2 separate regions of the Homo sapiens genome follow, and region 1 is linked to region 2. Evidence: fine-mapped expression QTL. Tissue or cell type: pancreas. Region 2 holds a variant in brackets; the other region holds the start of a gene. All regions are shown on one strand. Distances are between the middles of the regions.

Evidence for each region. PIP is the estimated chance that this variant, and not a neighbour inherited with it, causes the effect.
Region 1: it holds the start of RIMBP2, and the variant in region 2 is fine-mapped to the expression of RIMBP2 in pancreas (GTEx, PIP above 0.99). The same link has a PIP of 0.9 or more in lung.

Annotation. Positions count from the first base shown.
Region 1 is chr12:130,715,094-130,717,848 of GRCh38, forward strand. It overlaps RIMBP2 (RIMS binding protein 2), which reads right to left and starts at 1,206. Exons shown (of 23, transcript NM_001393629.1): 1 at 1,129-1,206.
Region 2 is chr12:130,631,205-130,633,959 of GRCh38, forward strand. All of the region lies in intron 1 of RIMBP2 (RIMS binding protein 2), which reads right to left. Among named protein-coding and RNA genes, the nearest start is that of RIMBP2, 84 kb to the right of the region's middle. RefSeq lists an enhancer at 2,701-2,755. The variant G/T (reference allele first, on the strand shown) is at 1,468.

The DNA.
Region 1 (2,755 bases), 84 kb after region 2:
AGCCGCTCTCCCTCCTCTCAGGCCTGCTCCATCTGTGACATTTCCCTTCCCTGGACGAAGTGGGGTTTTCACCCTTGTGAGCAGAGTCTCCTTCAGGGCTCCTCCGTGAGAGAAATATGGGGCTGGACAGGGTCCCCTTCCCTCCCTCCTCACTCACCCTAAGAACCTCCAGGGACCCAGAGGCCACGCAGGCACGGAGCCAGCACCCCCGCCTCCCCCGGGGCCAGTGACCAGGCCGGGAGGTGAAGCAGTCCTCCCTCCCTCCGGCCAGCCGCCACCCCGACCTCAGCCAGCGTGCGCTCCCCGGGGACAGGAGGGAGGCTGCTTCCACCGAGGCCTCTGCTGACAGATGTCCGGGCCCCCACCTGGACCTACCCAGACCTAAGCTCCTGGGCGGGTGGTCCCGTACGCGCTGCCTTTCCCGGTGAAATACGGTTTCCACTGGGAGAGTCTGCCCCCGGCCAGCAGCCCGCGCACACTGCTCACACAGGCACACGCATGCACGCACACACTCTGCCGGGGAACATCTGTTTTGACAAACACATTATTCAAGTCAGTCCATGGGACGTGAATTGACAGATTCCTGGGCGCAGCCTGCGGGCTTTGTGCATTTGCACCTGAGCCGAGCTGGGGACTCTGATGTGTTTGTCCCACGTCCCCTTCCCCCCCTCCACCCCGCCCCCAAGAAGACAAGTCCAGGCCCTGAGCCGCTGCTGTCTGAGAAGCCTGGGGCGCACTCCCCAGGCGAGCGGGGCCGTGTCCATCGGGTGCCAAACTTTGCCTGGAGGGGCCTTTCTTAAAAGCCTGGGGTGGGGGCCATGACAGAGCCACAGCACCCCTGCAGCTGACACCCGGCACCCAGGAAGAAGCCCGTCAGCCCTTCCCTTCCGAGACGATCCTGAATTCCAAGCAGCACCGACATGCCAGCAGGGCGAGCCGCTGCTCCCCGCACCCAGCGCCCCCGGACCCCACGCTGAAGGGCATTCTCCATCCGCTGCAAGATAAACTTTGTCTGGGCAAAGAGTTTCCGGCTAACCCCCTGTGATCAACGCCGCTGCAGCTCGGGTGCAGAAAGGCGAGGGGAGACGGGAAGCTATTTTTAGGAGAAAAAAATAAATCTCAGCCTACCTTTAGAAGCGAGCTGTGCCAAGGCTCCGGAGGTTCACCTCGGAGACAACTGCAGTGTACTGTGTCAGATTACAAACTGGGGGCGAGACGGAGGGAGGGAGGAGGGGGAGAGGGAGAGAAGGAGGGAGGGAGGAGGGGGAGAGGGAGAGAGGGAGGGAGGGAGCAGCAGAGGGAGAGACAGGGAGCGAGAGGCAGGCAGAGGCGGCGCCCAGTCAACATTGCAGGGCATTGGTGTGTCTGCACTGCTTGCATTCAGCTAGACATGATTCATTAGTTTTCTGCAGGCAGGCAAGCAGGTCGAGAGGGAGAGAGGGAGGGAGAGAGAGGGAGAGAGAGAGGATCATCCGCCATGCAGCAGTAACCAGAGCCTCTGAAACGTCAGTGTTTGAACGCACACACACACACACACAAATACACATGCACACACACGTGCGCATACACACACCAAGATGGCTATACCCCTCACTGCCAGTTTCTTTCACAGAGCTGTGGTGAAAAGCTCGGACAGAGATGGAGGCAAACAGCTCTCAGCCATGCGGGGCTTGGGGTTGGTGCTTTTCTCTCCATCCCTGGGAAAACAGCACAGGATCTTCCCTGCAGGAGGCCGGGGGTCTCCTGCAACCGACAGGCAACCGATCAGCACATCAAAGTAAAAGCTGCCCTGGGCTCTACTCCAGGAAGCTCAGAAACTCAAGCGCCCTCAGAATTAAGTGATGAAGAGGAGCGACCCAAGCTGCCTGGGTCTTTGCTCTCCTGTCCGGCTCCCCTCCCCACCCCAAGCCTCCAGTGGCCCCGCAGATTCCCCCTTCCCACAGAACTTCAGGTGGTGGCACAGATATACCCGCTACCTAGCAACCGGGTGGTGCAGGAGGGAAAAAACCCTGGGAAACACGCACGGACTTCACACACTTGCTTCCTTCCCTGGGGTAAAAATCCCATGGCTTGTTACTGAAAGGTGCTGAATAAGATAGCTCATGCGGAGGAAAGCCCCTTTGGTATTTTGGGCTCCACATACCCTAATTGAGGCTCTGAGGGCTCCTACTAATGATGGCCCTGTGCAGGGACAAGACTCGAGTGTAGGACACGAGAATTCCAAGGAAGGGCTCACCACGGGTCCTTTGTACAAAAAGGAAGGACTTGTCCCGAGGTGCTTTCTGTTGCTTCTCCAATTAAGGCTCACTTTACAAGTTTTTTAAAAAATGGGCTCCTTAGTAAAACCAACACATCCTACCATCACCGTGGTTTTGCTTGTGATCTTAAAGGAATCGCAAAGGTCTCAAACCTAGACAGCCAGAGGAAACCTCTTCCCAAGACAACTTTTTCAACACTGTGGCAGACGGGTCCAGCGAGTTTTCCCAGTCAGGACTCATTTTGGCCTCCCGGATAGGCTTCTGAATTATATGCCTCTGAATTTGGCTGCAAGACTGGAGGCTTCTTTCAAGCCCCGTGTAGAGTGGCCCCAGCCTCTGTGCATGGAACAAAGAGATACGTGCTGTATCCAGGAGTAGGTGGCAAACCACAGATGATTCCTTTTCACCCTGCAGCAGAGTTATCAGGTCACAGAAACTACAAGACTGCAGAAAATCGTGGAAGGGACTGGTTACCAGATACTCGTACACACATGTTC
Region 2 (2,755 bases):
AATCAGGCTATTAATAACTCCAGGAAAACTAAAAAGCCATACAACGAAAGGGATGTAACCACAGTCACTAATTGGTGCTACCATTAGCAATATACACACAATAACAACGTAACAACTAAGTATTCACTTAAATAAAGTAGCAATTTAACTATGTGTATAGACTGGGGGAGGGAAACTAAGATAACTAAATCTTCATTTACCACAGAGCTTCTTAAACTCAGCAGTGTGACATTTGGGGCCAGGTAATTCTTCCTTGTGCAGGCTGTCCTGTGCACTATGGGGTGTTTAGCAGTATCCCTGCCAGTAGCAACCAGAGGCCAGTAGCACACACGTTTCCCTGAATCATGACAAACAGAAGTGTCTCCCAACGCCAACCCTGAAAGGCAAAACTGCCCGCTCAAAGCCCTTTGAGAACCACTTATCTACCACCCCAGAAAGTGCTGCTAATATTTTTTTACTTTGGAAAACTGGTAAGTCAAAAAAAAAAAAAGTTACAATATTGGCAATTTTTACTATTATTTAAGAGCTTCAAGAAGAAACCACTAAAAGTATTGAAAGTGGGCTCAAGGGACTGGGTATGGAAAGAAGAGACAGCACGAGATTGTTTCCATATACCTTTATACACTTAATTTTTCAAATTACATGCATGCACTTTCAAGTTATAAACTACTGTTGCAGCACAAAAGAAAGCATGCTTGTGTCTGGCTTGGGAACTCACTGAAGTCTTCCTCCACAAATCTTTCTCAAAGGAAACCTTATACTATCACATTAACTTACTTGATATGCCCATGTCTTTTCTTTAAACTACATGAAACAAATAGTTATCACATAAAAACATTTTTAAAAATCTATACATCTCCTAAAATCAACTGATGTAACACCACTGGTCCACCTACTTCATCGTGGGACGATTTCAGCAAAAAATAAAAGAGACGTTTCTAACCAGATCAGATGGGCTGGATGCAAACAAATCAAGGCAGACACCTCCAGTGAGATCCCTGCAGGCAGAGGCACATCGTCGTCATTGCTGACTACCTCCTTTTAGTGCAAACCCCCAAATCCTTACCTCCACCAACACACATCCTATTCTGCTCCTCTAAGGAATCATGTTCTCTCAGAGAAATCATTAAGAATAACATGAAAAAACGAGATTACAGGAAGTCACGATAATCTGCAAGTGATGTACATTTTTTTTTTCTAGTTCTATTACAGAAGAAAAAATTGGGGGGTGGGGCAATGATTCCTGGCTTCTCAATGCATTTAGTGCAGGTCGGTGCCCTCCGTACAGAACAAGTAAACCTACCGCTTTCTCCCCTCATCTTCCTGGGCTGCCGGGATGTGCTTTTTCAACCACCCTGTTCTCTTTGCTCTGGGGCCCCTCCTGTCCTCGGCTCGGCCTACTCCATCGTTAAAGAGGCTAAGGGGCTTTAATATCTCACCAGGCTGACTGGAGAGCTTGCTAATGAT[G/T]ATAGGGCATAAAAAACTACTCTGTATGGTTACATGTGAAGTATGTTAATTATTAATTCAAAAGTGGTCCAGCAAGTTAAAGGATTTGTGGGGCTGTGCATAACCAACCCTAATGAGCCCATGTAAAATTGAGTACAGAGCTTGAAGACCACTTTACACAAAGTTTTAATTAACAGAGCCATTTAGGCAGAGAGGAAAACAAAAACAATGATTCATTGATGTACGTTTTACTGCTGCCGTGGAACACCAGGACACATAAAACACCGGCCACCTGCTCTGCCCCATAAACATCTTCCTCACGGAGCACAGGATCATGCCTTCTGCCAGGAGGGAGGAGCCAGTTCTTGCTATTTAATGTTAGGCATAGACGCAGTTCATTTCATCTGTTTACTACAAGGTCCTCGCTACATAGAATAAAAAAAGAACCCCCCAGGTCTTAAGCCAGAGTCAGCACCCTCACGTTTTGCTGTATATTTCAACTAACAGCGGACCTACATGAAATTAAAATGCTACAATTATATCTATTGTCTGAGTATATTCATTATCTAAAGGGTGTTCAACTTTGTCTCATCATTTGAGCTCAAAGAATTGAAAATGTTGCACAAAAATTGAATACAGAGTAGGAATTTCCACTTGAGATTTCACAACTTTGAATGGATGCTGTTTCTAATGCCAGTTCTGTGATGCTTAAACTAGCAAAACCAAACTGTTCCCACCAGAACGGTGAATTCCTGAGGGAGGAAAGTTGGAGGGACAAATAACCGGACACCCAGCCCTTGCCTTTCCTCCTGAACCACATCCTATCCCGAGTGTCCCGCCCACAGCCCACCGAAACTGATCCTCGAGACCAAGGGTCTTTTCTAGCCTGATACAAGGCCTGAGGACAGATTTGGAACAGCATACCCACAGGGTAGTAACAGTGATTTGAGCCACAATTAAGACCCAAAGGTTTAGAAACCAGGGGTTATCACAACCCCTTGAGGCTGGAAATGCCTCTTCCCACCTCTCAGCCCAGAAAACAACCCTTGCTCTACAGCCCACAGCCTAGAAAGAGATTGATTTCCCGTCTGTGTCTAAGCTGTATCTCATTAACCCACGGGGCTCTTTCCCCAGCCCCAGAAGCAGGTACTTACAAGGCACCGGAGATTAGTGGTCTAGTGGACCAGACAGACTGGTCCAGGCCTCCCCGCCGGCCCCCCTTCCGGTCCCCGTGGACGCCAGCCTCTCTGAGCCTCGGATGTTTGTGCTCGGCACCAGGCTGGAAGGCTATTTACTTATTCATGGGCTG